6 separate regions of the Homo sapiens genome follow, and regions 2, 3, 4, 5 and 6 are each linked to region 1. Evidence: fine-mapped QTL for protein levels in blood plasma. A gene starts in region 1. Each other region holds a variant in brackets. All regions are shown on one strand. Distances are from middle to middle.

The links. PIP is the posterior inclusion probability: the model's chance that the variant is causal. The UK Biobank Pharma Proteomics Project read protein levels with antibody pairs (Olink). The fine-mapping took linkage between variants from a reference panel, not from the people measured, so its PIPs are less certain.
Region 2: its variant is fine-mapped to the plasma level of the IFNLR1 protein (UK Biobank, PIP 0.99).
Region 3: its variant is fine-mapped to the plasma level of the IFNLR1 protein (UK Biobank, PIP above 0.99).
Region 4: its variant is fine-mapped to the plasma level of the IFNLR1 protein (UK Biobank, PIP above 0.99).
Region 5: its variant is fine-mapped to the plasma level of the IFNLR1 protein (UK Biobank, PIP above 0.99).
Region 6: its variant is fine-mapped to the plasma level of the IFNLR1 protein (UK Biobank, PIP above 0.99).

Annotation. Positions count from the first base shown.
Region 1 is chr1:24,184,768-24,189,839 of GRCh38, forward strand. It overlaps IFNLR1 (interferon lambda receptor 1), which reads right to left and starts at 2,522. Exons shown (of 7, transcript NM_170743.4): 1 at 2,424-2,522. The coding sequence starts at 2,481. RefSeq lists a silencer at 2,295-2,784.
Region 2 is chr1:23,764,601-23,769,686 of GRCh38, forward strand. The region is part of intron 3 of ELOA-AS1 (ELOA antisense RNA 1); the gene reads right to left. Among named protein-coding and RNA genes, the nearest start is that of ELOA-AS1, 11 kb to the right of the region's middle. RefSeq lists a silencer at 1,199-1,493. The variant G/C (reference allele first, on the strand shown) is at 2,284.
Region 3 is chr1:24,152,962-24,158,047 of GRCh38, forward strand. IFNLR1 (interferon lambda receptor 1) reads right to left here. Exons shown (of 7, transcript NM_170743.4): 7 at 1,207-4,930. The coding sequence ends at 4,169. LOC124903879 (a long non-coding RNA gene) reads left to right here. Exons shown (of 3, transcript XR_007065544.1): 2 at 2,051-2,231; 3 at 4,294-5,086. Among named protein-coding and RNA genes, the nearest start is that of IL22RA1, 12 kb to the left of the region's middle. RefSeq lists enhancers at 1-533, 534-1,131, 1,132-1,729. The variant G/A (reference allele first, on the strand shown) is at 2,489.
Region 4 is chr1:24,127,817-24,132,816 of GRCh38, forward strand. It overlaps IL22RA1 (interleukin 22 receptor subunit alpha 1), which reads right to left. Exons shown (of 7, transcript NM_021258.4): 5 at 325-463. Among named protein-coding and RNA genes, the nearest start is that of IL22RA1, 13 kb to the right of the region's middle. The variant T/C (reference allele first, on the strand shown) is at 2,130.
Region 5 is chr1:24,093,916-24,099,001 of GRCh38, forward strand. It overlaps MYOM3 (myomesin 3), which reads right to left. Exons shown (of 37, transcript NM_152372.4): 7 at 4,008-4,096; 8 at 1,527-1,571; 9 at 938-1,075. LOC124903878 (a long non-coding RNA gene) reads left to right here and starts at 2,131. Exons shown (of 3, transcript XR_007065543.1): 1 at 2,131-2,302; 2 at 3,509-3,675; 3 at 3,926-4,059. LOC105376864 (a long non-coding RNA gene) reads left to right here and starts at 4,791. Exons shown (of 4, transcript XR_007065542.1): 1 at 4,791-4,877. The variant A/T (reference allele first, on the strand shown) is at 2,746.
Region 6 is chr1:24,197,654-24,202,739 of GRCh38, forward strand. LINC02800 (long intergenic non-protein coding RNA 2800) reads left to right here and starts at 2,587. Exons shown (of 3, transcript NR_027087.2): 1 at 2,587-2,738; 2 at 4,811-4,946. RefSeq lists an enhancer at 1,909-2,018. The variant G/T (reference allele first, on the strand shown) is at 1,992.

The sequences.
Region 1 (5,072 bases):
CAGCATTTTGGGAGGCAGAGGTAGGCAAATCACCTGAGGTCAGGAGTTTGAGACCAGCCTGGCCAACATGGTGAAACCACGTCTCTTCTAAAAATACAAAAATTAGTTGGGCATGGTGGCACACGCCTGTCATCTCAGCTACTTGGGAGGCTGAGACACGAGAATTGCTTGAACCCGATAGGTGGAGGTTGCAGTGAGCCGAGATTGCGCCACTGCACTCCAGCCTGGGTGACAGAGTGAGACTCTGTCTCAAAATAAATAAATAAAATAATAATAATAATAATAGCAGCTAATGTGTATTGTGTTCTGTGAGCCAGGTTCTGTGCTAAACAGTTTACCTGCACTTTCTCTTTTAATCCTCATTACATCCCTAGGAGGTAGGTATTCATTATAATAATTATAATCGTTACAGATGGGAAAACCAAGGCCCTCTCAGCTATTAAGTTGTAGAATCAGATTCAGTCCAGGCCTAGCCAACTCCAAAGTCCGAGCTCTTGACTGTACTTTGTCTTCTAGGTTCTCATGGGGTCTATTGAGCTTTATGATTCCAACTATTCCATCTATTGACCACTACGAGTCAAACAAGATCTGTTGACCACGGTGTGCCAGGGGTTTCAAAGAAGAACACAACTTCATTCCTGCCCTATAGGAGCTCATGGTCCCATGGAGAATTCAGGGTCCTGAAGTGTCCCATGTGCCATGATGGAAATCCATACGGGTTGCAAAATGGCATCAGGGAGGGAGGGTCCAGTTCTGTGGATGGCTGTCCCCAGCCTCGGCTGCCTACCCATCACCTTCTAGACCCAAAAGTGGGTGCCTGCTTCCACCTCATCCTGTGTCCTCTAGCTGGGACTGTATCACCACGAGGCTAGTGCTATTACTACTCCCAGCTTCTGGACTTCCTAACGGGTGACCAGCAGGAGACCAGGCTGTCTGCAAGCCACTTGTAAGGTATCCTATGGGCAGGACAGTCCCCAGATTCGAGCTAGGTCACATGAGAAAAACAGCAGTTAGAGCAACTTTCCTCTATGAAGCCTTCAAAGGATGCCAGGCACTAGTTTGGCTCTTTACATGTAAAACCTCAATCACCCTTGGGACAGACCACCCTATGGGGTAGGTGTCATTCATTCTGCTTCCATGGAAAGGGCGCTAGGCTCAGAGACAGATGCTAACTAACTTGCCTGAGGCTACACAGTCAGTTTGTGTGGGAGCCAGTATTTGAACTTAGATCTGGCTGTACTTACTCCTAAATCATCACACCATAGTTAGTGTTGTGTATATTAAATACTTATCAGGTGAAAGTACAAGAAGGTCTGGGTTTGACAGTGAAAGGGGAACAGAAGACCCCACCCTCCCTCCACACACAGGTACACGGTCCCTCATCAGCCACAGAGAACGCTGCTGTGGGCACTGGGGGCTGGAGCATCCCTGGCTGGCCTAGTGACCCAGTGGATGGACAGCCTGTCCCACGTGCCTACCCTGGAGGCAAAAGCTAGCCAGGCTTGCTTTAGCCCCTCTTCTCTCTTCTGTGTGCCTCACCTCTGCCATCCTTCTTGAGGAATTCCCTGAATTGCTCTGAGCCTCAGTTTTCCCATCGGAAAAGTAAAAATAATATCTACCTCCGAGGATGGCTGGGTCGTGAGGCTTCCAGAATAATGCGGTGCCTGGCACAAAGAAGTTGCTGAATAAATATAGGCTTTTATGATGATTGGATTATGCCCAGGGACCTTTACAGCTCTTTAAACTGTGAGTCCAAGACTAGGAAAATATCCTGGGGGCGATTTCTGGACCTTCTCTTCCCTGCTTCGGTTGGAGTCGTGGGCGGTGAGGTTTGGTGGTTGGGTCCTACGGCGAGGAATTTTGTACCTGACACCTTACTCATCAGTAGAGGTGGGAAAACAACAACAACAACAACAACAACAAAACAACAACAAAACAACAACCACCACCAAAAGAAAGCCGTCTTGTTAGAAAGCAGGGCACAGGCGACCAGAGCTCCGTCCCACCAGAGGCCTGGCAGGAACGGGAAGGGACATCAATCGGTCCCACTTTCCCTGCTGTCCACACTTTAGGGTCAAGTGTGGTTTTCACGCAGGGATCAGTGCTTTCTTTAGGAAACATTAAAAAGCACTTTATTAAAAAATATGCAGTATCAAACTGCCGCTGTCTTTTTTCTCCAGTTCTCCTGAAGCTGGAAGCATTAGGAAACTGGATTCGTTTCCTGCGGGAGAGGAATATCAAAGACCCGGTTCTGTTCAGTCCTGGGAAGAAGCAAACTGGGGGCGCGTAGGCAGGGCCGATTCGCACCCGGCTCGGGTGGCTGCGGACCCCGTGCCTGTCCCAGGAGCTCCGGGTCCGAGGGTAGGCGCGGCCCGGCCCGGGGAGCCCTCTTCCCCCTCCCTCCCGCGGCCCCGCGCCCTTACCTGGAGCGGCCTGCAGCAGGCACAGGAGCAGGGGGCCCCAGCGCTCGGGCCCCGCCATGGCCTTCCTGCCGCGGCGTCCCCGCCCGGGCCCAGGTCCCCGCCTCCCGCCTCCCGCCTCCCGTCTCCTAGCCCACCGCGGGCAGGTGACGCAGTCGGCAGCCAATGGCCCGCAGAGCCGCGGGCCCGTCCCTGCCGCCTAGGATTCACTGAGAAGGTCCCTGGGGACAGCCCCGCCGCGGGGGGAGGGGGGGGGGGGAGCGCGCCGGTCCCCGCGCTCGAAACTCGCCCGTACCTCTGCTTCATCTGCACTTAGTTTTGTTTTACTCAATTCCCGGAAAAAAAAATCAGTAAATCCGTGCACGGGGGAAGGGCAGGGGAGGGGAAGAAACCGGCTGATGATCAATAACCCACGGCCAGTCCAGTGCTCCAGGACGGGCCATTTTGGCAGGATTAGGGAGAGTTCAAGGCCGGTTTGGCTACGCGGCCTCAATGCCATTGGCGGGATCCGAGCGCGTTTCTGAGCCGGATGCTGAGCTCCGCGCCTTACACACGCGATTCCCTTTAATGCCCCCGGGGATCCCGGCGGATCCGTGCTGCCCTTCTCCACGTACTTCTCTCCCGGGGAGCGGCAGGCCCCAGAGCTTCAGGTGCTTGTTCTGGGGAAAGCTGTCTTTCTGACCCCGAAGGCTGTGGTGTTCACCTGGACAGCAGTAGCTTCCCAGTAAGGCACACGCCACGACGCGCAATATTATGCGGCCCTTTAGGAGGACGTTGCCGAATGGTGTGTATCGACACCGAGGTGTTTGCAACACACTGAGAAACAGAAAAGCGAGTGCTAAAACATAGGCCCATTAAAAAAGTGTGTGTGTAGCCGGGCGCGGTGGCTCACGCCTGTAATCCCAGCACTTTGGGAGGGTGAGGCGGGTGGATCGCCTGAGGTCAGGAGTTGGAGACAAGCCTGGCCAACATGGTGAAACCCCGTCTCTACTAAAAATACAGAAAATCAGCCGGGCGTGGTGGCATTCACCTGTAATCCCAGCTATCAGGGAGGCTGAGGCAGGAGAATCGCTTGAACCCAGGAGGCGGAGGTTGCAGTGAGCCGAGATCGCGCCACTGCACTCCAGCCTGGGCGACAGAGTGAAACTCAGTTTCAAAAAAAAAAAAAAAAGTGTGTGTGTGTGTGTGTGTGTGTGTGTGTGAGTCTGTCTGTATGCATAGAAAGATATTTGGAATAATAATTACCAAAATATTAATGGTTGTTGTCTTTGGGTGATGAGGATTTTCTTTTTCAACTTTCTTCTTTTCTGATCATATTTCGTTTCCAATTTTTTGATAATTATTTGAAACTGGGATCAGCTTTGGTCCCATCAGTTTTTGGAAGAGAAAATGATTTTCACAGAGCTTGGTGGGTCCAAAAGTTGCTCTGAGTTTAACCGCGGGGGAAATTTCTTTTGGAAATTTCAGGATGCTTCTGGGACTAGCATCAAGGCTTCTGCTTAATCAGGATTTTTTTTCTTTTTTTTTTTTTAGACAAAAGCTCTGTCGCCCAGGCTGGAATGCAATAGTGTGATCTTGGCTCACTGCAACCCCGCCTCCTGGGTTCAAGCTATTTTCTCACTTCAGCCTCCCAAGTAGTTGGGATTACAGGCACCTGCCATCATGCTCAGCTAATTTTTGTAGAGATGGGGTTTCACCATGTTGGGCAGGCTGGTCTTGAACTCCTGACCTCAGGTGACCTCAGCCTCCCAAAGTGCTGGGATTACAGGCATGAGCCACTGTGCCTGGCCTTAATTAGGATCTCTTAACAAAGCCCTGCTCACAGAGGACGCAATTCCACCTCAAAGGCGCAGGGTGGAGGAGGATGGAAGAGCAGCAGGCACGGTCAGTGTTGGTATCTTGGGATCTCTGAAATGTTGACTGTTGACTTTCTTTTCTCCTTCCTTCCTTCCTTTCTCTCTCTTTCTTTCTTTCTTTCTTTCTTTCTTTCTTTCTTTCTTTCTTTCTTTCCTTCCTTCCTTCCTTCCTTCCTTCCTTCCTTCCTTCTTTTTTCTCTCTCTTTCCTTCTTTCTTGCTTTCTTATTTTCTTGCTTTCTTTTTTTTTGACAAGAGTCTCACTCTGTCACCCAGGCTGGAGTGCAGTAGCGTGATCATGGTTCACTGCAACCTCTACCTACTGGTTCAAGCGATTCTCATGCCGCAGCCTGCCAAGTAGCTGGGACTACAGGCGTAAGCCACCATGCCCAGCTAATTTGTGTATTTTTAGTAAAGACGGGGTTTCGCCATGTTGGCCAGGCTAATCTCGAACTCCTGGCCTCAAGTGATCTGCCCACCTCGGCCTTCCAAAGTGCTGGGATTATAGGCATGAGCCATGCACCCGGCCCTGAAATGTTGACTTTCATTTCCACCCAGCAACTGCAACTCTTTTAGACCCGGAATCCCACTGTGCTTGGAGCGGTTCAACAGCAGGTACAGAAATATCTTCATTTGCCACCTGCTCCACCCATGGGCTCCTGTGCTATGCATCTGAAACTGGCACTTGCTCTTTTTTGACAATTTGTTTGTCACATGTTTGTTCTCTTGTTCCTCTTCCCCCACCTCCCCGCCCACGCATAGCTTCGAGTTAGAAAATTGTGTGTTCAGATGCCTTGA
Region 2 (5,086 bases), 420 kb before region 1:
CCAGGCTGGTCTTGAACTCTTGAGCTTAATCACTCTACCTTGGCCTCCAAAGTGCAGGGATTACAGGCATGAGGCACCTCGCCCGGCCCCCTGAACTTCTCTATGATGTCTATTGTCTCAACTCTTTTCAAAGACTAAGGAAAGTTCCAGCCATCAAAATTTTATATCACTGTATCTGTTTCTCAAGCACAGAGTCTTGGGTTGGGGCCTCAGAATATGCATTTAAAAAGATGCAACTCAAGTGTTATGGACTAAATGTTTGTGTCCCCCCAAAATGCCTATGCTGAAATCCTAAGACCCAGTGTGACAGTATTAGATAGGCCTTTGGAGGTAATTAGGTCACGTGGGTAGAGGCTTCATGAATAGGATTCTCCCTCATAAGAGAAATGAGAGTTGCTCTTGCTCCTTGTTCTCCACCATGTGAGGAAATGAGAGGACGGCAGTCTGCAAACCAAGAAGAGGGCCCTCACCAGACACAGAATTGGCCAGCGCCTTGATCTTGGACTTCCAGCCTCTGGAACTGTGAGAAGTAAATGTTTGTTGCCTAAGCCAGTCAGTCTATGGTAAGTTGTTACAGTAGCCTGAAATGACTGAGACACTAAGCGATTTTTTTTTTTTTTTTTTTTTTTTTTTTTTTTTTTTTTTTTTTTTTGAGGTGAAGTCTCACTCTGTCACCCAGGCTGGAATGCAGTAGCTTGATCACTCTCGGCTCACTGCAACCTCTGCCTCCCGGGTTCATGTGATTCTCCTGCTTCAGCCTCCCTAGTAGCTGGGACTACAGGCGTGCACCACCAACTTTTGTATTTTTAGTAGAGATGGGTTTCACCATGTTGGCTAGGCTGGTCTTGAACTCCTGACCTCAGGTGAGATCAGGTGAGATCCACCTGCCTCGACCTCCCAAAGTGCTGGGATTACAGGCATGAGCCATTGTGCCTGGCCTGACACTAAGCATTTTTTTTTTGGGGGGATGGAGTCTTGCTCTGTTCCCCAGACTGGAGTGCAGTGGCGTGATCTCAGCTCACTGCAACCTCCGCCTCCCAGGCTCAAGCGATTCTCCTGCCTCAGTCTCCCAAGTAGCTGGGATTATAGGCATGCATCACTACAACCCGGCTAATTTTTGTATTTTTAGTAGAGACGGGGTTTCACCATGTTGGCCAGGCTAGTCTTGAACTCCTGACCTCAAATGATCCACCCGCCTCTGCCTCCCAAAGTGCTGGGATTACAGTCATGAGCCACCACGCCCGGCCGACACTAAGCAATTCTTAAAATGTACACTGAAGTTTGAGAACTGCTCCAGAGAATTTGCCACAGTGGAATAGCTCTTCACAGCAGGTCCCTAGGTCAGGACTAGGAAGCTTGTTGATTTAGTAGTAAGCAAATACTTGCATTGCTTCCCACTCTGTGTCACTGACTAAGTCAGACATGGCAGGCTGGGGACAGTGGCTCACAGCTGTAATCCCAGCACTTTGGGGGGCCAAGGTGAGAGATTACTTGAGTCCAGGAGGTTGAAACTAGCCTGGGCAACATAGTGAGATCTTGTCTCTAAAAAAATAAAATATTAGGCCAGGCGCGGTGGCTCATGCCTGTAATCCCAGCACTTTGGGAGGCTGAGGCGGGCAGATCACCTGAGGTCAGGAGATCAAGACCAGCCTGACCAACATGGAGAAACCCCATCTCTACTAAAAATACAAAATTAGCCGGGTGTGGTGGCACATGCCTATAATCCCAGCTACTCGGGAGGCTGAAGCAGGAGAATACCTTGAACCTGGGAGGTGGAGGTTGAAGTGAGCCAAGATCATGCCATTCAAAATAAAATAAAAATAAAACAAAATAAAATAAAATATTAGTTGGGCATGGTGGCATGAACCTGTAGTTCTAGCTACTCAGGAGGCTGAGGTGGGAGGATTGCTTGAACTCGGGGAGGTTGAGGCTGCAGTGAGCCAAGATCATCCCACTGCGCACCAGCCCGGGTGAAAGAGCAAGACCCTGTCTCAAAAAAGAAAAAAGAAAAAAAAAAAAAAGGCCAGGCATGGTGGCTCATGCCTGTAATCCCAGCACTTTGGGAGGTCAAGGCAGATGAATCACCTGAGGCCAGGAGTTCGAGACCAGCCTGACCCACATGGAGAAACTCCGTCTTTACTAAAAATACAAAATTAGCTGGGCGTGGTGGTGCATGCCTGTAATCCCAGCTACTTGGGAGGCTGAGGCAGGAGAATCGCTTGAACCCAGGAGGTGGAGGTTGCGGTGAGCCGAAATTGTGCCACTGCACTCCAGTCTGGACAA[G/C]AGCAAAACTCCGTCTCAAAAAAAAAAAAAAAAAAAAAAGAGACATGGCCCTTGCCCTCATGAAGCTTTCATCTAGTAGGGAGACAGTTATCAAATAACTGCACAAATAATTCTTTTTTTTTTTTTTTTTTTTGAGACAAAGTCTTGCTCTATTGGCAGGCTGGAGTGCAGTGGCGCGATCTTGGCTCACTGCAACCTCCGCTTCCCGGATTCAAGCAATTCTCCTGCCTCAGGCTCCCGAGAAGCTGGGACTACGAGTGTGCGCCACCATGCCCAGCTAATTTCTGTATTTTTGGTAGACACGGGGTTTTACCATGTTGGCCAGGATGGTCTCGATCTCTTGACCTCGTGATCTGCCCGCCTCGGCCTCCCAAAGTGCTGGGATTACAGGCGTGAGCCACCGCGCCTGGCTTTTTTTTTTTTTTTTTTTTTTTTTTTTGAGACGGAGTCTCACTCTGTCACCAGGGCTGGAGTGCAGTGGCGCGATCTCCGCTCACTGCAAGCTCCACCTCCCGGTTCACGCCATTCTCCTGCCTCAGCCTCCCGAGTAGTTGGGACTACAGGCTCTCGCCACCACGCTCGGCTAATTTTTTGTATTTTTAGTAGAGACGGAGTTTCACCGTGTTAGCCAGGATGGTCTTGATCTCCTGACCTCGTGATCCACCCACCTCGGCCTCCAAGAGTGCTGGGATTACAGGCGTGAGCCACGGCGCCCGGCCACAAATAATTCTTTAAAGTACAGGTTTCTGGGCCCTACTGAAGAAATATGGTTGAATAGGTCAAAGGTAGGATCTGGAAACAGGTACGCTTTTGTAGGCTTCCCCCAATGAACTCGATGAGCGGCCTGGTTTGGGAATGTCTAGTGTAGTGGAAAAAGCATGCATGACCTTTGGGATGAGACCCAGGTTCAAATCCTGCCTCCACCACTCCCACACCTCTCTGAGCCTCAGTTTCCTCATTGGTAAAATGGGAATTATGACACTCTGCAGGAATTCTTATAAGGATTCAATGACAGAAGGGGAGCCACATTTTAGTGTCCCTCCTTCTTTCCCTCTAAATGTGGAATGAAAGAAAAAGGTTTTGTTTTTTACTGATGGGAATTCAAACTTCAGGGTCACAAGCTAAGAACTATTTTGAGGTCAACAAGTCCTTCCTGATAAATGAAATCTTAGTGCCTGCTTCCTCAGAGTTAGTTTGACTTTTCTGTTTTGGGGCCCCATTCTAATTTTTTCGGGTCCCTTAAACTGCAGCTTCTAACAACCACTAAAAAGGAAGACCACCTAATTTCTTACGGCCACAAACTCAAATACCAGGGGTTTGGTATGTGACAGCAGGCTGTGATGGGAACAGAAAGAAAATGGAGCTATTCACACAGCTCCACTTTATTGCTTCCGGGTTGAAGACAGGGCCCAGTGTTGCCACCTCTTCTGGATTTAAAGAAAATGGCCGGCCAGGTGCGGTGGCTCATGCCTGTAATCCCAGAACTTTGGAGGTGAGGCAGGTGGATCACTTGAGGTCAGGAGTTTGTGACCAGCCTGCCAACATGGTGAAACTCCGTCTCTACCAAAATATACAAAAATTAGCCAGGTGTGGTGGCGTATGCCTGCAGTCCCAGCTACTTGGGAGGCTGAGGTGGGAAAATCTCTTGAACCTGGGAAGCAAAGTTTGCACTGAGTGACAAAGCTCCAGCCTGGGTGACAAAGTGAGACCCTGTCTCAAAAAAAAAAAAAAAAAAAAAAAGGAAAAAGGAATAGGCTCAGCAGTAGTTCTCAACTAGAGGTGACTTTGTTCCCAGTATGACACTTGGCAACATCTGGAGACATTTTGGTTGTCGCTGTTGTTGGGGAGCTATGGGCATCTAGTGGGCAGAGGCCACGGATGCTGCTATCCATGCTACAATGCACAAGACAGCGCCCCTCCCCCAACAAAGAATTATCTGGCCGAAAATGTAAATAGAGCCAAGGTTGAGAAGCCTTGGACATGGTTCTGTTGCAGCAACAACCCTCAAATCTCAGTGGCTTGCAACAACAGAGGTCTCACCGCCTGTCCATTGTGAGTCTGACAGGGATCTGCTTTATGTCATCCTCACTCAGGGGCCCAGGCTAAGGGAGGTGCCATTCCCATGCTTGTAAGATCTTCGAGGCAAGTAGAGAATATTAATATATTATTAACATTAATTATAATAATAAAAAATAATATTAATTACAATATTGATATAACTGTTAAGTTTTGTCTAGAAGTGACATCTATCATTGCCATCATATTGCATTGGCTGCACCTTAATTCATGGGGTCAAGGAAGCACAATCCATCCATGTTCCTGGATGCAGAGAATTGGGAATATTTGCTAACAGCATTAAAGATTCCAAAGGTTGGGTGCACCAAAACCTCAGAGATCACCACTAAAGAACTTATTCATGTAACCAAACACCACCTGTTCCCCCAAAACTTATTGGAAAAAACTAAAAATCCAGAGAAAAATGTATGCTGACCAAAAAAAACAAAAAAACCTCCAAAGGTAATCATGACAGCCTGGGCTCTAGGTAATCCACAAGGCTCAGAGAAGGGCAGCTAAGGGCACAGGCTGTGGAGTCAGACGTCAGACTTGGCTTCAAACCCCACACTTTCTAGCCATGTGGACTTGAGCATGTCACTTAATCTCTCAGTTTCTTTCTCTAAAAATGAGGAAAATAGGCTGGGCGTGGTGGCTCACACCTGTAATCCCAGCACTTTGGGAGGCCCAGGCAGGCGGATCACGAGGTCAGGAGCTCGAGACCAGCCTGGCCAATATGGTGAAACCCGGT
Region 3 (5,086 bases), 32 kb before region 1:
AGTTGTTGGAAACTGGGAGACCCTTGCTAATGGAGAGCTGCTGGAATGAGTTTGGCAATGCAAAGCTAGGCGCACAGGTGCTGTTCCATATCCTTCCATGGACCATAGTTGCAGCTGGGTGAGCTGTCAGCTCCAGCCTCACTACAACAAGGGATATTGGCTGGGGACCCTGCCCTCAGCCCCATGGCACTCCCCTTTCTTGTGCACTCAGCTTGGTGGATTCCAACTGCAAGTACCTGCAACTCTGCCTCAGGGAACGGCCTCCACACTGGACTGATGGGAGGGAGTAGCTAGACTCCCTGGCTCCTGCCCCTGGCAGTGGGACCAAATCTGAATTGCATCCTACATTGACTTCCAGAGCTCTCCAGGGGCACTGAGGTCCAGCTGCCCACAGCAGGGACCTGTTGATGACACACTTTGCCTGGCTGCCCTCCTCCCCTACCCTCCTCCCCATCTTGCCTCCACACTCCCCTCCTCCCCTACCCTCCGCCCCATCTTGCCTCCACACTCCCCTCCTGGCGTTACCTGGATCACTGCACTGCTTTCTACCTTTCTACCTTTTCTCTGGGTTTGCTTCTGGGGACCCGACTCAAGACCCTTGTAGTCTTTTTTTTTTTTTTTTCTGAGACTGAGTCTGGCTCTGTTGCCCAGGGTGGAGTGCAGTGGTGTGATCTTGGCTCACTGCAAGCTCCACCTCCCGGGTTCATGCCATTCTCCTGCTTCAGCCTCCCAAGTAGCTGGGACTACAGTCGCCCGCCACCACCCTCGGCTAATTTTTTGTATTTTTAGTAGAGACAGGGTTTCACCATGTTAGCCAGGACGGTCTCGATCTCCTGACCTCGTGATCTGCCCGCCTCGGCCTCCCAAAGTGCTGGGATTACAGGTATCAGCCACCCTGCCTGGCTGACCCTTGTAGCCTTAACAGCTAGGTTTCCCAGAGGAGAGGTGAGGAGCCTTTGAAAAATAAGAGCATAGGCCAGAAACGGTCACTCACACCTATAATCCCAACCAACACTTTGGGAGGCCGAGGCGGGAAGGATTGCTTGAGCCCAGGAGTTTGAGACCAGCCTGGGCAACATAGGAGATTCCATCTCTACAAAAACAAAAAAATTAACCAGGCCTGGTGGGGCATGCGTGCATGACAGAGTGAGATCCTGTCTCAAAAAAAAAAAGATAAGAGCATACGCTTTTCCATTCAATTGTACCTTTTTTCTTTAAAAATAGAGCTCTTTATTTAAACAGTTTAGGGTAATACCAACAAGCAGTAGGATATCGTTTAAATATGACATAAACATAGAAAAAATAGAAATAAATACAAATACATAAGAACAACATATACCGTTAGTAGTCTAAAGGGATACATGTTGCTTTCACCTAAGGCACTAACACTTTTCACGGGATATGCTTCCAGCGCAGGCCCAGCCCACACCGCGCAGTTCCCACCTGCTGTGCACGTGAAAGGGCTTTGTAAACAGTTAAGTGCTGACCACACAAGGCAAATTATTATACTGATTATCATGCCCTTTCCAAATGCTTCTCCTGGCTTTTTGTGAATGACTTAATGACGATAAAGGAGATGGAGTTTAGAGTTACTGGAAAACTTAAGCTATGTCAGAAATTAAACTCTGGAAAAAATTCTTTAAAAAAATAGTAAGGTTTGGCTGGGCGCGGTGGCTCACGCCTGTAATCCCAGCACTTTGGGAGGCCGAGGCGGGCGGATCACCTGAGGTCAGGAGTTCGAGACCAGCCTGGCCAACATGGTGAAACCCCGTCTCTACTAAAAATACAAAAAAATTAGCCAGGTGTGGTGGCGGGTGCCTGTAATCCCAGCTACTTGGGAGGCTGAGGCAGGAGAATCACTTGAACCCGGGAGGTGGAGGTTGCAGTGAGCCGAGATTGTACCACTGCACTCCAGCCTAGGCAAAAAGAACAAAACTCCGACTCAAAAAAACAAAACAAAACAAAAATGGTAAGGTTTAAGAATAGAAACGGAGTGGTTATTTCATACAAGTCTAAGATGATGCTGATGATAGCTTTTACTTTTTTGAAGTTACCTCCACGAAGCAGCTCGGCTGGTGCCAGAGAGAACATCGGTACAGGTCTGGGAATTTCCCTGGGAGCTGGCCCCAAGCCACAGCCCTCCCCAGCTCCGTAGTTTGTTTGTTCTTCCTCTCCTGGGCTCAATCATCTGGACAAGCCTCACTGCAGGGAAAACCCCTGGGGAGACACAGGTGTGTGTCGTATGTGTGTATGCATGTGTGTGTGTGTGCCCCAGCAGCGGTGAAGGCCTCCTGACCCTTAGAAATCCTGGCTGTGACCTTCATATTTTACTGACATGGACAAGGGGTCAGAGGTTGGCCCGGCTGTGCAGAGATCGAAGCTCTTACCCTTGGGGATGTGCACAAGTCATCAGAGCAGCACTGCTGGGCGACCTTGGACAAGTGCCTTTGCCACCCTTGACCTCAGCTCCTTTGCAACAAAAGGAGTG[G/A]TTTGCTAACTTTTTCTTGAGTAGTGGATCCCTCTAAACAAAACCTCACGTGGAAAGCCACAGTGTGTGAATCAGGGCACAGTGAGGCTGCTCTGGTGAAAGTGGGAGGCTCCTATAGCCCCATGGCGCCCCCTGCAACTGCAGCCCAAGGCCTCTGGGGGACATGGTTTGAGAATCCCTGGATGAGATGCCCTAAGAAGCTTTTCCAGTTCTGCCATTTAATGCTGTACCCTTGTGGTGGCTTTAAAGCAACACAGCTCTGTGGGTTCAATGGCTTTGAAGATCCCTTCTTCACAAATCCAGAAATGTTAGTCCTGGCAGGTTGAATGGCCACAGAGCCAAGGTTGTTCAGATACTCCACCACAAAACACTTCGGTCCTACGGGTGAAAACTCAGCTACGCTCATCTATATTCAGGTGGGTGTAGGTTAACTGAGGATGCATCAGCACCCCCAGGTAAGGATAGTCACCTGAATCTAGAAGGCATTGGTTTCTCATAACTGGAAGGGAGAATGGGACTTCTAAGGACCACAACGGTCAACCAAGAGTCTAACGTGCCATCCAAACTGGGATTACAGGCCCAGAAGTCCGATTCCTGCCATGTTACTGTCCTACTCCAACAAACTGGGTCCCTAGAAGGTGGAGCAGTTGGTTCCTCCCCTGGGAAGCAGGGTTCCCATTGCTAGGTGAAGGCGGAGAGACCAGGGTCCCCTTGGGTGGGGCTCTGGCTTCTGAGAGCTCACTCTCCTGACTGGGAGGCAGTGAGGGTAGAAGGAAGGAGGTAGACTGGGGATGAGACAAGCTGAATGTTAAGTGCTCTCAGTCACTCTGGGTTTAGGGGCCACAGGTGGGAGATGCCCAGGGGTCTCCTGGAGCCTGGATAGATGGAGAATTCTACCGGCCACCACGTAGAGAGCACCCAGGACACAGCAGGCTCCGTGCTACACACATCTGAGATCCCCTAGAACCCTCACCACACCCAGGCGTAGCTGCAGATGAGGAAGCCGAGGCAGAGAAGGAAGATGTCTTCCCCAAGATCATACAACCAGTGAACAGCAGAGCTGGGATTTGAACCCCGGTCTGTCTGACACTAAAACCGTACAGTGCCATGACTCCAAAGACCAGGATTTGAGGACAGCCACCCTTCCCTTCCCATCCAAAACCCTCAGCCAACTGGATTTTTATCTGGGCCTAACTAGGGGACCCATGAATCAGGAGGCTGAGCCCTGGGATGGGGGAGTTCAGTGGCTGCTGGGAAAGGCATGAGGTATAGCAGGTGTGCCTCCAGTGGTCTCAAGTTCCAGAGGGCCCCTTGGTGGTGTCCGCCCTTGATGTCCGCAGTGACCTGACCTCACCTGTTTCATGTTGTCCGGGGATAATTTTTCCCCCTGGCCTGTCACCCTAGGGACAATGGGGGTGATGACACCCCACCAACCTCTGACCTCAGCCCACCCTGTGTCCACCCCTCTTATAGCTCAGCCTAAAGAGGGCGGGTCACAGGAGGGAGGGGCATCTTGTTGCTCAGCCCGACAGGCAAACAGCCGCTAGGTGGACTTCCCGGAAGTGCAATGCCCCTCCGCCGCCCAGGGGAGGTACGGAGGCTCTTGAGTTTCTTGGGAAGCCCAGTAGTCCTTGCAAAGGCAGCAGCAGCATCAGATTCGGTGGGATGTCGGGGGACAGCTCACCTGGCCATGTAATGCCCCAATGTCCGGCCCCTGTCCTCGGTCCTCTGGGTGCTCTCAGCCCCCCAGCTGCCCGCATCGCTGTCCTCAATTTCTGATTCCCTCGCCTCCTCTTCCTCCTCAGGGCTGCTTTCCCAGCAGAAGGTCAGTGTCTGAAGAGAAACTGGGGGTCCCCCAGGGACCAGATTCGGCTCCGGTGGTAAGGTGCCCCAGGTGGCCCAGGAGGAGAGGTTATCTTCTGGGAGCTCTTCCAGGAAACCCGAGTCCTTGGAGAATTCAGGTGGTGGGAGAGATTCTTGGTGCCCATCCCCACCCGGCCCTTGGCCTGGCCCCTTCTCAGCCAAATAGCCAGAGGACCCAGCCCTGTCCCAGGAGGAGTCCACAGTGCTGGCCCAGCTTCTGTCTGAAGAATCCCAAGCAGAGGAGCCTTCGCTTGGGACCAGAGGAGCCCTGGGCCTCCCTGAGTCCACCCCACCAGCCTCCGAGTGCCCTGGAGCCTGGTGCTCTTGCCCCAGGAAAGAAGGTGGTTCAATGTAGGGCTGGAAGCTGACGCCATCTTCTGTGTCCTCCTCATCCTCCTCCTCTTCGTCCTCTGCAAGGTCCTTCTTCCATCTTGTCTGTTGGGTGGCTGGGGCCCTGACTCGAGGCGTCGGCCTGACCCCTCTGGTCAGTTCCTTTTGGGGACAGAGGAACAAGTCATTCACGGACTCTGGTCTGCTGGGCTGAAAGGTTGCCACAGGGTGTGTGTGTCCAGAAAAGTCCTGATTTGGGTAGGGGAGAGAAAAGCAGAAAATTTAGGCTTTCCTGAAGCATAATTATCATCATCTGAATTCCCCTAGAAACAGACCTCAGACAAGGCTTCAAGTGTAAGCAGTTTCTTTGGGAGATGATCCCAGAACACACCAGATGGGACTGGG
Region 4 (5,000 bases), 57 kb before region 1:
TGCTTCCCCCCTGCAGATTTTCCCTCCAGTATATCTCACCTGGGTTAATATTAAGGTGAGTTTGCTTTGCCAAGGTACACATAAGGCCTGTCAGAGAGGGGAAATCCAGACATAGGCTGGAGGGTGAGAATCAAACATTTGCTTTGATAACTCATCAGCCAACTCTTTTATGGATAAACAAAGATTGACTTCAATAACACACTGATAACCCTTCCATGGTTTTCTAGAGTGTTGCCAAGTCTCACCTTGGTTACAGGGAGGAAAGAGAAGAGTCAAGACTTGAATTCGGGAGCCCCACCTCCCTCTGGTTTCAGCCGAACTCACCTGGCAGTGTCTTCACTCGGCACATGTAGGGGGCACTCTCCTTGGCCCAGGTGGGAACGCAAATCATGATGGTGCCAAGGAACTCTGTGTCAGGGGTCAGGCCGAAGAACTCATATTCTCTCTGCTTCCCTCCAAGGTGCTGAATTGGACAGAGAATGGAATGTGATTCCTGTTACACACCGATCTCCACATAGAGCCCAAGGAAGCTTGCTCGCTCCTCCTGGATTCTGGTTTGATGCTGATGGGTCTGTCTTCAGCCTCTGTTTCCATTCCCCTCCCTTCTGCTTTATCCCCAAATCCAATCAGTCTCCAAGCACGTGTGCCTTTCACTTGCAATAGTGTCTGGCCCATAGGCAGTGGTTATACACACTATATAATGTGGTTATATACATATATATATATATATATAAAATGTGTGGTTATACACACATAATGGCAGCTGTCATTATGACCTCCACCACCCTCCCACGCTCCCACTATCCCTCCTTCTTCCAATTCCTCTTGTCCTTCACCTTTTTGTGGTTAAACATCATAAACTTTTTGAACACCCATTCCTTTCTTTCTTTCCTCATTGCTTCTGCCTTAATTGGGCCTCAAGGCTTCAGCCTGGACTCTAGCAGTAGCCTCTTTCATGGTCGCCCATCTCTGGGTTTGCCCCTGTTCACTTCCATATTCATCCTAGTGTTTATAGGAATCTTTCTAAAAGACAATCTCATTATAATGCTCTTCTATTCAAAAGGCTTTGATGGCCTCACCCATATTTACAGAATAGAGTCCTGGTGCCTGGCTTCCAGTCCAGACTCATTTGTCTCTGCAGCCCACCTGGCTCTGCAGGCTCATCAATGCTGGATACCTGCCACTCGGGTAAACACCTACCTTGCATAAGAAAGCCCTTGTTTCTTTGCATCTGCCAATCCTTCTGCTGGAACTGTGTTTTGATTCTCGTTCTTCTGTGTATCTCTCACCTTTTTGACCCAGAACTCCTCTCCCATGGCTGCCACATGTTATCCTGTCTGGCTCTCCTCCTACCTCTCTGACTGGTCTTTCGCTGGTTTTAGCCCCTCAATGTTGTTCTGCAAGATTTGCTCTTCAACCATTTCCTTCTCTCTCACATACTCTCCAGCCACTTAGTGATCTTATCTGAACCCATGGCTGCTGTGAGCACCGATGTGTGGATAACTCCCAAACTTATCTCAGGAAGAGCTGTAGAGTTTCTGATGGGCCCTGCCAGCTCCCTGCTGAATAGTACCATGTGAGCATCTCTAAGTCAACATGTCCGAACATGCTGCCCTCCTCTCTCTGGGGCTGGCCCCATCCCAGACCCCAAACCCAAATCTGCTTTTGATTCTCTAATTTTGATAATAGCATCACTCTTCTTCTAATCTCCAGGGCCTAAACCTTGAAGCCATTTTGGACAAATCCCCTCTCATATCTTTGGTATCAAATTGCCCTTAAAGGATCCAGAAATCTTCCTTTAAAGGGCCAGAACCTGTGTTCTCGGGAGTTCAAAAACTGAGAATTTTCTTTGGCTCTTTGTATTTCAGCTCTGCCTTCTCTTTTTCAGGCACATGGAGGCCAAGGTTGAGGGTAATTTACTGTTTTCTTTTGTGTGTGTTTATGGGGATGGTGGTGACAGTGAGTGAAGAAGTACATAAATAAATTTTTTAACTTATTGTTTTGTGGAACTCATGTGGTTGGAACTGGACACATTACATATCATGAGACATAACTCCAGGAGAGTTGCCAAGGCCCTGATTCCTCCTTTCCCAAGTTTTTCACGACCTCCATCCTGGTTCAGGCCCTCA[T/C]TTCCAGCCTATACCATTGCAATAATCTTTTGACTTGCCAGCCTGATATCTCTTCCATTTCCATATTTGATCTTTCTTCATTCTAATCCTAGTAATTTATATCTTCTATTGGACCAAACATCCCCAAAATAACAACTATAAATTCTAAGCAAAATGAAAACCAACTACTTAAAAGCATTGGAGAGAAAATAAAAGCAGGCATATATTGGAGAGAGGAGAAATGTCGATGGGTACATTTCCCATTTTTACTGTCTTGTAGCCTGAAGGCAGACCTCAGTCTACACCCTGTGGAATGGCTAAACCTAGACAGAAACCCTTTATTCTCAGTGGCTTGAATACCCAAAAGGCAGGGCTTGGAATAATCACAGCAGCTGGAAAATGAGGGGAGAAAGCACAGACAGGGGAGAGTGTAGAGAAGGAGGCCCAAACTCTGTATATAAACTCTGCTCAAATCCCTGACCGGCCCCTAAAGTAGGCATGAATGGGGTAGACTCCAAGCAGCCCAGGTAAAGTTAACCAACAAAAAAAGAAGAGAGATTTCAGAGTTTGGAGTTCAGCCAAATTAATTGCCTACCAAAACCGGATGAAACCAAACCAACACTCTTTGGAGGAATATAACAGAATCTACAGTAATTTCAACACAATGTCCAGGATACATTTCAAAATTGTTAGACATACAAAGAAAGAATATGCGACCCATATTCAAGAGAAAAGATAATAGTGACTGACCCTGATGACCAAAATGTTGAATTAGCAGACAATGATTTTATTTTATTTGAGACACAGTCTTACTCTGTCACCCAGGTTGGAGTGCAGTGGTGCAATCTCAGCTCACTGCAACCTCCGCCTCCCAGGTTCAAATGATTCTCCTGCCTCAGCCTCCTGAGTAGCTGGGATTACAGGCACCTGCCACCATGCCCAGCTGATTTTTGTATTTTTAGTAGAGATGGGGTTTTACCACACTGGCCAGGATGGTCTTGAACTCCTGACCTCAAGTGATCCACCCACTTTGGCCTCCCAAAGTGCTGGGATTACAGGCGTGGGCCACCTCACCTGGCCAACAATGATTTTAAAGCAGCGGTATAACAATGCTCCAGGAAGTGAAACAAAATAAGCTCATATTGAATGAATGAATAGAAAATCTCAGTAGAATATGGAAACTATAAAATCTAGGAACTTTAGAGTTGAAAAATTCTAGATATTATTATCTGAAATTTAAAAACCCACTGAATTATCTCAAAAACATTTTGGAAATGACAGAAAAAATAGAGAACTTGAAGAAAGATTGATAAGGGAGAATTAGATAGTGGTGATGGTTTCACAACTTTGTGAATAGGCAAGTAACACCTGAATTGTATGCTTTAAAAGAATGAATTTTATGGCATGTGAATTAATGTCAAAAAAAGGTAAAGGCTGTCAGAGCTGTCTGCAAGAGATACATTTTAAATATAATAACAGAGGCAGATTGAAAATGAATGTAAAAACATATATTATGCAAACCATAAGAAGGCTGGAGTGTCTATATTAATATCGATAAAGTAGACTTCAATACAAAGAGTATGACTACAAATAAAAAGGAACAATTCCTATGACAGAAGGTTCAATCTATCAGGAAGATACAACAATCATAAATATATATGTATTTAATAACTGAGTTTCAAAATGCACGAAGCAAAAATGCACAGAATTAAAGGGAAAATAGACAAATCCACAATTATAGTTGGAGAGTTTACTATTTTCAACAATTAAACGACCAATTGACCTCTCACCTAAATCAGGAAAGACATAGAAGATCTGAATAACACAATTAATCACCTTTACCTAATTGATATTTATAGCGCACTCCACCAACCAACTGCAAAATATACATTCTTTTCAGGTGCACAAGGAACGTTCACCAGGACAGGCCATAGGCTGGGCTATAACACAAGCCTCGATAAATTTAAAAGGACTGAAATCATACAGCGTGTGTTCTCTGACCACAAATTGAATTAAATTAGAAATCAACAATAAAATATTTAATAAGACCCTAAATATTTACCAAAAAATAGTTGTGATAAGGACTCTCCCTGCTTAGTAATCTCTAGTGGCTCCCCCAACTACCGAAAGAAACAAAAATTCGTCCCCTCCACCACCCTATCCCTTCTACAGCATAGTCCCATCCAGTCTTCTGAGGTTTATCTCCCGGGGTCCCTCCACGTCAGAGGTTCTCAAGCTTTGCGTTGGGGAAGAAGCGCCTGGGTTGCTCACTAAAATTCAGATCCCAGGGATGCAAGTGCAATAACTTGATGAAGTTGACTGGAAGGGGACCCAAGAATCTGCATTTTAAACAAGTGCTGCAGGAGATTCTGATGCTGTTTGTTTGGGACCATGGTTTTTGTGTGTGTGTTTTTTTTTTTTTTTTGAGATGGAGTCTTGCTCTGTCGCCCAGGCTGGAGTGCAGTGGCGCGATCTTGGCCCACTGCAAGCTCCACCTCCCGGGTTCACGCCATTCTTCTACCTCAGCCTCCTGAGTAGCTGAGACTACAGGCGCCCACTACCATGCCCGGCTAATTTTTTGTATTTTTTAATAGGGACAGGGTTTCACCGTGTTAGCCAGGATGGTCTGCATCTCCTGACCTCGTGATCCGCCCGCCTCGGCCTCCCAAAGTGCTGGGATTACAGGCGTGAGCCACCGTGCCTGGCTGGGACCATGTTTTAAGAAACTGTTTTACATGTCTTTATGCTCTTGTCAAAGTGGGCAGTTCTGTGCTTTTCAAAAATGTCTTAAGTTGGCCGGGTGCGGTGGCTCATGCCTGTCAACCCAGCACTTTGGGAGGCTGAGGCAGGAGGATCTCTTGAGCCCAGGAGTTTGAGACCAGCCTGGGCAAC
Region 5 (5,086 bases), 91 kb before region 1:
GGAGGTCCAGCCGTCGTCCTCCTCCCTCACTGGGCCACGTCTTCCTGCCTTGGCTCTGACCAGGCTTCTCAAGGCCTCGCCTGAGACATCCCCAGAGGCCTCCCAGCCCACGGGTCAGCAACTGTATCTGCACCACCACCCTGACTCTGCAAAGTCCGATGCAACTGTTGCAGCCTGCCCTGAGCACTTGTGGTGCCCTCCTGCCTCCCGATCTTGGGGCTCTGTTCCCATTGCTTTGAGTGCCCTCACTCACTTTTTTTTTTTTTTTTTTTTGAGATGGAGTCTTGCTCTTGTCCCCCAGGCTGGAGTGCAATGGTGCCATCTCGGCTCACTGCGACCTCTGCCTCCTGGGTTCAAGCGATTCTCCTGCCTCAGCCTCCCGAGTAGCTAGATTACAGGCACCCACCAACATGCCTGGCTAATTTTTGGTATTTTTAGTAAAGATGGGGTTTTGCCATGTTGGCTAGACCTGAACTCTTGACCTCAGGTGATCCACCCACCTCAGCCTCCCAGAGTGCTAGGATTACAGGTGTGAGCCACCACGCCTGGCCTCCCTCCCTCACTCTTAGGGAGGTAATGATGCATGCAAATGGCTGAGCAGGTGCCTGGTCAGTGCCAGCGGCTACAATTGTGCTGATGGCTTCCTCCCTCCTCCCAGGTGGACACAGCCCCCTGGGCTCATGCACATCTGCCCCTACCATTTACCCCAGCCCTAACCCAGGGCCTGGCACCCCACAGATGCTTGGTGGCCATTTATGGGGTGGCATGATCTGACCACACCTGGCTGCACTCCCGCTCTCCTCTGCCTCTTCAGCACTTTAGCACAGTTGGTACTGGTTGGGGAGAGTCTCTGTCCGCTAGGGGTCCTCTCTGGCTCTGAGTTGAGCTTTGGAGGGGCCAGCTCTGGAGGCTGGGGGCCAGGACTGGGGGTCCTTACCATCTCGGAACCACTGGATGCTCTCAGCATCTAACACATCTTCCGAAAACAAGCATGACAGGGAGAAGGGTTCCTTCTCACGAGCAAAGACTGGCTTCAGCACCGAGGTGAATTCCACGCTGGGGCCAAACGTCGATCCTGGCGTGGGAATGAAATTTGGGGCAGAAGTTTTTGAGGCAGCCAGCCTGGCCTGGGACTTAGGAGTGAGGAAATTTCTGGGGCATCCCTTCTCTTCTGGGTCTTGACTAGGAGAAGGGGACCTGGCCTTGGGGTAGGAGGGGAAGAGACTTATCTAGGTAGTGGTCAGAGCAGCCAAAGAGCAAACATCCCAAGGCCAAGTCCGTTGGTTTTTCTGGCTTTGCCTTTCAAACCCAGTTTAGGTCAGAGAACAGCTCAGCAGCTGGGGACAGCTCTGGGGTACCCTGCGGCCTTTAGAAGTCAGGTGCAGGTATTACCAGCTCATAGACAAACCCCGGTGGACGTCCTTTTATGGGCAGGGGATGGCTATATTCTAAACAGGGACTGTGGGGGTCGGGGAGCAAAGCCTGAACAAAGAATCCCAGGTCCCGTTCTCCCCCAGCCGACTTACTTTTGAAGATCTCTGAATCGAAGCCAGCATCCTTCCCCAGGTAAGCTGAAAAACCAAAGGCAAACAGAGTTGGAGAAGGTTCAGAGCCCACATTCCTATGCTATTTTGGGGACATGGGCTTTGGATATGAGTTTGAGTCCTGGTCTGTTGGTGGCTTCCCCTTGTGGCTTTGGGAAAGTTCTTTTACCTCTCTGTGCCTCAGTTTCTTCAGCAGTAAAATGGGACAGTAATTCCTACCTGGAGCAAGGAACGAGCGGGTTCACATGAATCAAGCCACCAGCCATAGCCTGACACATGGCAGGTTCTCAATACATGCTGGTTTCCTTTCCCTACCCAAACTTGCCCCCAGGATTATGCACTGTCTTCACAGCGGTCAAGCCCGCTCAGAGGCGCGGGGATTTCTGGTGGGATCAGGGAGAGTGGTGGGGGAGGGGCAGCACTGAGAGGCATCCAGGGGCTGAAGGGTGAAATCCAAGGTAATGTTGCCACAGACCACCAGAGAATAGTAACAGCAGCTCTCACTCACACAGTGCTCGCCCCATGCTCTGAGGATTGAACGAGCCAATTAAACACATAAACACATTGACTCATTCTATCTTCACAACAGCCCTGTCAGTTGGTACTATTATTATCCTCTCAAACAGAAGAGAAAACTGAGGCACAGCCGTCCAGACAACACCCCAGCAGCCTGAAGCTATGACATGACACTGGTCCCTGGAAAGGCCCTTCCTGAGCAAGGTCCAGAGAAGGGCAGGAGGCTGCCCGAGATCACACAGGTCAGTGGAAGAGTCAGGATTGGAACTCAGGGCTCCTGTCCCCCAGGCCACTAAAATCACCCAAGTGGCTACGGAGATGAAAGCAGAGAAGAGGGTGGTAGTGGCGGTGAGTGGAGTAGGAGAAGCAGAGGGTTGGCTGGAGTCTGGGGCCAAGAGCAAGCCTGGTGGACCCTGGAGTTGCCAGCCTTGATGGAGAGAGGGACAGGGATCTGGAAGGAGTGGTGGGAAGGACGGGTGGGCAGAGGGAGGCAGGGCCCCAGTCCCTGACCTTGGGCTTGACTCTGGGCATGGACTGTGGGGACAGCTCAAATTTCTGCACAAGAGCTTGGCCTGGCAGCAGGATCTGCCTCCTAAGAGCTATTTAGGGAACAGGACAGTGGGTGGAGAGGGCTGTGCAGGACAGTTTAACAAGGTCTGATGAGAGGCAGGGAGGGTGGCCTGGG[A/T]TCCACCTGTCTACTGCCCAAGACAGCTGCCTCAGGAGTGTGTGTATGAGTGCGCGTGTGTGTATGAGTGCACGTGTGTGTGTGTGTGTATGTGTGCACACGTGGGCTTCTCTCTCCCGGGGGTCCTGGAACTCAGGGCACGGCATTCTTCTGGGCCCAAAGGTGTGACCCCCTTGGGCAGTGCCCTGCCCTGGTCATGGGAATGGGTACCACATGCCAAGGCTTATACGTATCATCTCATTTAATCAACTCGGGCATCTGAGAGAGGTGGTAGGATTGTAGGATTCTCCCTTTCACAGATGAGGAAATAGAGGCTCAGGGAAGTGAGGTGGCTTCCCAGATTTACACAGCCAGTTGGCAGCAGAGCCAGGATGTGAACTCAGGTCTGGCTGACTCCTGAGTGTCTACCTGCTTTATGCTGTGATTTCAGATGCCCATGGGGTGACCTCCAGGAGGGGCCCAAGCCCAGCTGGAAAATGTGCAAAAGGACCCACATGGGGCAGTGGGGGTCAGGTGGGGAGTTGCTGGGGTTTGGCTTTTGTCCCTGAGGACCCCTCAGCAGGGTTGGTGGGGCCAGACCACCCTCCCAGAGGCCCTGAGATGGATCCCAACCTAAGCGCAATCCGGTGGGCCAAGCATGCTCTTTGGCATGGCGGGCAGGTGGGTTCGCCTTGAATAACTGTGTAGGTTGTGCTCTGTGCAAAGTTATCCCCTGAGAGAGCAACTTGGGGGCTAAAATTCAGTCTGTTTTCCATTTGCCAAGCCATGTGCCCTGGAGTGGGAGCTGCACCTGCCTGCAGAAAAGGGGCCCCTTTCGCTAATTCATCCATTCAGTTCACACAAAGGTGCCCACCATGCCAGTGATGACTCTACAGAGAGAGCTGAGTTCAAGTCCCAGCCCTGCCACCGGCTGGCTCAGGATGGAATCAGGTACTATCAAGGGTGTCTGGCACACAGTGAAGACTCAGGAGAGGTCAGTTCCCTTCCCATCTCCCAGCTGCTCTTGACACCAACCCACAGGGACAGGTGATCCTGCCTCACTCACCTTCCACCATCAGCCCAGGCTGATGGAGGAGACTATCGCTTGCTGTGAAGGCCCCCAGGGAAGCGGGAGTCTCCAGGGCTGCCCTGGTCACCCAATGCCAGGCTGAACAGCCTTGTGCCTATGGCCCTTCCTCAGGTCTCACGCAGACCCATGTCCTTGTCTGCCCAGCTTGGGTTTGCTGTGGCCCGGAGTGCCTGTTGGGGTTGGGAGGACTTACTGCGGACGAGGACTTTGGCGAAGGAGGAGGCCTGGCCGTGGGCGTTCTTCACTCGCACAGTGTAAGTTGCTGAGTCCTCAATGGCGCATCTGAAAAGGAGAGAGGGAGAAGTTCCTCCCAAGACTGCTGGGCTCCATGGGAAACACAAGTCCCCTGTGTGGGTGGGAAAGGCTGGAACTAAGGAAAGCCTCACGGTGCCAGGAAGAGACTTTGGTCATTATCTCTGAAAAGCTGTGTGTTTTCTGGTTGGCCACTGCACCTTTCCATGCTTCGGTGTCCTCTGAAAAACTGGGGACACGACACCACCTAAACCGTCTCAGGAGAAAGTGCTTTAAAAATATGACATGCCACATTGCAGTTATTGCTGACTGTGGAGGATCAGAGAGGTTAAGTGACTTTCCCAGAGTCACAGAGCAAATGGAACTCAACTCAGCTTCAAACAAGGATCCTGGAGCGGGAGCCTCCTCCTTTCTCAGAGAGCAGCAGACAAACTTGGTCAAGGCAGGCTGCAATCTGGATAGAACTGAGCCAGACACCCAGGTGTTCCCAGTCTTAGGTGTGGGTCTCACCACCAACCAGGCCAACCCTGTCATGTTCCCAGTGGAAGCCTGGGCCAGCTCCATCCCAGGGGCACCCTGGTGACAGAGAGGAGGTGGTCGGATGTGGCACCTCTGGCCCCATTAGCAAGCAGAGGCCCCTTGGTGCCTCCTTTTTGCCCCTGGTCACTCAGCACAGGAACCCCTCTTGCTTCCAGGGCCAGTCCTGCCTGCCCCGGAGGTCCCCCTGGGCCTGCGCACCTTCCTTGACTGTGGAGTCCATGGGGCACCTCCCTTATATGGTCAGATATTTATGTCTCCCCACTTCTGAAGGGTAAGATGAGTGTTCTGCTTATCTTTGTGTCTCTGAGGCCTGGGTTGGTTGAGGTGGAGGGTTTGGTGTTTGGGAAACAACCCAGATAGAGAGAAATGGCTCACACCAGGCCCTGTCGCATAGTAGCTGTACAAGAGCCTTAACTTTCTGAGCCTGTTTCATCACCTGCGACATGGGGTGCTTCCCTCAAGCATGGTGGCAGGGATTAT
Region 6 (5,086 bases), 13 kb after region 1:
CAGGCTGGTCTCAAACTCCTGACCTCAGGTGATCTGCCTGCCTTGGCCTCCCAAAGTGCTGGGATTACAGGCCTGAACCACTGCTCCTGGCGGGGTGTGTGCATTTTAAAATTTAACAGATACTACAGATACTGCAAGTCGCTCTCCATGGTGGCTGAACCAACTTCCTACCGGTAGGATATATGAGACTATCCTTTTCCTAACATCCTAGTCAATCCTAGGTCTCAGCCAGCTTATAATGTTTTGCCAAGAGAGGTTTCTCACTGTTGTGTTCATTTGCGTGTTCATGGGCTTTTTCTAGAAGTTCCAGGTTGCTGGTGTGGGGGAAGAACTCAGGAATTCGGGTCAGGCAACCTGACTATCTGCTGTGTGACCAACACTAGACCCAGCCCTGTCTCCATCTGCTGTGTGACCAATGCTAAACCCAACCCTGTCTCCATCTGCCTAAGAATCTTGGTCAAGAGCTTCCTTTTGGTCCTCTGTTTCTTCATTTTTGAGGTCAAAGTTTCTTCCTCTCTAGGAGTCTGTTCTTCTTCCTCCGGCCCCTGCTGGGACTCTGGAATCCCTGAGTAAAGCAAGGCGTTCAGAAGCTCCTCCACTGTAATGCACACGTGTTCTCACTGGTGGACAAATCTTTAACTCTCCTGTTGCTCACTGAATAGTGCTCCAGAGATGTTCTGACCAGCATACAGCAGATGACAGGGACAGGAAACCAGATGGAAAGGGATTTATTATAATTTTTCCTTCACAAAACTATACTTTAGAAAAGTGAAACATGCTGAATGCCGAAAATTGGGAAAGTATAGAAAATTATAAAGAATAAAAATAAAATATAATCTCACTCTGCAGAGAGACTCATTGCTACCATTTGTGAGTTTAGTACATATACAGTATTTTATATATATGTTTAGTAGCTCACATTATATCATGAGTATGTCATTTAAAATATTTTTTAAAGTTTTAACTAAGAAAATTTGTTTTAGAGATGGGTTCTCGCTCTGTCACCCAGGCTGGAGTGCAGCAGAACAATCATGGCTGCCTGAAGCCTTGAACTGGGCTCAGGCGATCCTCCAGCCTCAGCCACCCAAGTAGCTGGGACTGCAGGCATGCACCTTCACACCCGGCTAAGTATTTTAATTTTTTAAGAGATGGAGTCTTGTGATGTTGTCCAGACTAGTCTCAAACTCCAGGTGTCAAGTGATCCTCTCACCTTGGCCTCCCAAGTTAATTTTTTTTTTTTTTTAGACGTGATCTCACTCTGTCATCTGGGCTGCAGTGCAGTGACACAATCTTGGCTTACCGCAGTCTTGACCTCCGAGGCTCAAGAAACCCTCCCCCCTCAGCCTCCTGAGTAGCTGGGACCACAGGCGTGTACCACGACTGGCCAATTTTTTGTATTTTTTGTAGAGATAGGGTTTCACCATGTTTCCCAGGCTGGTCTCAAACTCCTGAGCTCAAGCGATCCATCCACCTCAGCATTCCAAAATGCTGGGATTGCGGCATGAGCCACCATGTCCAGCTATTTTATTTTATTATTATTATTTTAAATGACTTTTCAAAAAGGCTGTACCAATTTGGGTTCCCACTAGAAGTCGTGGATTGGTGAATTTTTAAAGGAGCAGTGTGGCCCTCATCAACCTGGACGCACACGCTGGTCTCTAAGGCATGGAACAGTTGTGCTGGGAGGGAGCTCCTCTGAGAGGGTGGTCAGAAGAGCCCCCAGGCATCACCTCCACCATGAAAGCTCACCCCTCTCCCCTAAAGCTTAGATAACCAGCTGCATTTCCTAAGAGTGAGCACCAGGGGGCACCACATACCAAAGGAAAGTGGTCCAGACTGCGAGACCGCGGATTAGACCAAAGAGATAACGTTTTTTTTTTCTTAGACTGGGGCCCTCCAAGGCAGAGAGAAGACCAACTCTCCTGGCTTCCTTGACATTCTCCTTACCTGACGTTCTGCAGCCTCTTGGGAGACTCTCGGATGTACCCATA[G/T]GAGGCTGTGGGAGACAGAGGGTCATGTCCAGAAGGGAAATGGCAGTGTATGGCGTCACAGTAAGAGCTGGGGCAACTCCCCCGCTGTGTCTTTGATGTCTTTGCATCACCTTTCCAAGCCTCAGTTTTTCTCATGTGTCAAATGGGAGTGACAATTTCCTGCCTCGCTTTACTCTGTGTGTGTGTGTGTGTGTGTGCGCGCGTGTGTGTGTGTGTAACTTATGCCAAAGTGCTTTGAAAAACCGAGAAGTGGGAGGGGGGAGGGATAGCATTAGGAGATATACCTAATGTTAAATGACGAGTTAATGGGTGCAGCACACCAACATGGCACATGTATACATATGTAACTAACCTGCACGTTGTGCACATGTACCCTAAAACTTGAAGTATAATTAAAAAAAAAAAAAGAAAGAAAAACCGAGAAGGCCTAAGGATGTCTGCTGAGTTGAGACTAAGGTGTAGTGGGTGATATGTTTGGCTGTGTCGCCACCCAAATCTCATCTTGAATTGTAGCTCCCATAATTCCCACGTGTTGTGGGAGGGACCTGGTGGGAGACAGTTGAATCATGGGAGCAGTTTCCCCCATACGGTTCCCATGGTAGTGAATAAGTCTTATAAGATCTGATGATTTTATAAGGGGTTTCCCCTTTTGCTTAGCTCTCATTCATTCCCTCTTGTCTGCTGCTACGTAAGACGTGCCTTTTGCCTTCTGCCATGATTGTGAGGCCTCCCCAGCCACTTGGAACTGTGAGTCTACTAAACCTCTTTTTCTTTGTAAATTACCCAGTCTCTGGTCTTTATTAGCAGCATGAAAACAGACTAATACAGGGGGTAAGGACACGTGGAGCAAGATTGGTTACTACATTAGTCCAGGGAAGACAATGGTGGTGGCAGCTGTGAAGGTGGTGAGACGTGGCTGGATTCTGGATATATTTCAAGGGGAGAACCAGTGAGATGTATTGAAAGATTTGATGTCAGGGGTGAGAGAAAAAGGAGGTCAAGGGTGATACTAAGGCTTTTTGTCTTGAGCCAACAAAGACTAGCGGTGCCTTTTACTTAGTGGGGAAGATGGTGGAGGGATGGTTTGGAGGTGCAAATCAAGAGTTCCATATTTAGACATGCTACATTTGAGATGCCTTTTAGGTCACCGAGTGATTGAGTAAAGACAGAGGTCAGAAAACTGAGCCTTAGGCTGGGCTCGGTGGCTCACGCCTGTAATCCTAACACTTTAGGAGACTGAGGTGGGAGGATCACCCAGGAGTTTGAGACCAGCCTGGGCAACATAGGGAGACCCCATCTCTACAAAAAACAAAACAAGTTAGTGAGGTGTGGAGGCACACATCTGTGGTCCCAGCTACTTGGGAGGTTGAGGTAGGAGGATCACTTGTGCCTGGGAGGTTGAGGCTGCAGTGAGCTGTGATCACACTACTGCAGTCCACCCTGGGCAACAGGGCAAGACCCAGTCTCAAAAAAAAGATTTAGCCTTGATTCCTTTTCTCAGGGTCCTATAAGGATCACAGTATACAATAGATTGGACTAGATCAGAGATGAAAACATAACTCACACGCATGCGGCCACATCCCTTCCAGTGCCGCTGGCAGATATCACAAATTCATCACAGCACTCAGGAATCCTCTCAACCCAGAGCTCTAGGCAGCCTCTACCAACCAAGTGGAGATGATACAAAAACGAAAACTCTCCATCATCCTGAACTGGTTGAGATACCCAAGAATGCGGTTAAAACCATGGGCTTGGGCCGGGCGCCGTGGCTCACGCCTGTAATCCCAGCATTTTGGGAGGCTGAGGCAGGCAGATCACAAGGTCAGAAGATTAAGACCATCCTGGCTAACATGGTGAAACCCTGTCTCTACTAAAAATACAAAAAATTAGCCGGGCGTGGTGGCGGGTGCCTGTAGTCCCAGCTACTTGGGAGGCTGAGGCAGGAGAATGGCGTGAACCCTGGAGGTGGAGCTTGCAGTGAGCCGAGATCGCGCCACTGCACTCCAGCCTGGGCGACAGAGTGAGACTCCGTCTCAAAAAACAACAACAACAACAAAAAACCATGGGCTTTTGGGCTAGAGAGGCCTGGGCTGCACAGCTAATCTTGCTACCAGCTAACTTGAAACCTCAGAAAAAAACTGTTTCTCAGTTTCTTCATCTGAAAAATTGGATTAGTAATAGTTCCTATTTCATAGGGCTGTTGTGAACATTGAGATCATCCAATAAAATTATTTAGCACAGTGCCTGGGACACAGTCAACCATCAATAAAAGTGGCAGCAGCAGCAGTAATAGTTGTTGGATGGTGTTACTCCAGCTTGAACATTCCAGATACATCCGTCTTACATTCTGTTTCTGACATTGGACAAATAGTGTAATGTTGGGGCTGTCCAGCAGGAGGCACTGCTGACATGTACTTCTCTATTGCCCACAGAGGTCCAGGAAGTGGGAGGCAGTTTTCCCTGGAGCAGTGTTCTCTGATGATTGCCCTGGCAGAGGCCTAGACTTTTCTTCCTGGTACAATAAACCAAGCTCTTGGCTCCTCCCAGACAGCAGTGTCTCAGCTTTCTTCCTGGGACTGGTCCTCTCTTCTCAGATCCAGTTCCTGGCCTCCTCCTGCTTATAGCCTCCAGCCAAGCTGCTGAATCTGGCAACCCAGGCCCTGGCCAACCTTTCCTTCTTGTCCAGGCCCCTAGCGGCCGCCAACTTCCCCAAAGCCAGCAGGCACGTGCAGGACATGCCAGCTTGGAATAGGTTTCCTGCGCCCTCTCTCTTCCCCCTCAACTCTGTAAAATCCCTTTTTTTGATTCCTCCTCTTCAGAGATGGAGCCGGGCAGGACTAACCCTGCTGTGCAGATGGAATAAAAGGCAGGGACCTGTTCCACGATGCTCCCAAGCTCAGATCACAGCGAGCTAAAGGGAACCTGGGAGGTGGGTCTCCTAAGCCTCAGGCACAGGTGAGTCACTCGCCACTCAGACCACACTCATCTTTCAGACTCAGGTGTTCACTGGGGGCTCAGTGGGCATCTTCTGTCTTTCGGCCCTGTGCTGGGCACAGGGCTTGACTAAGATGGAGGGAGACCGTGCTGAGCCTCGG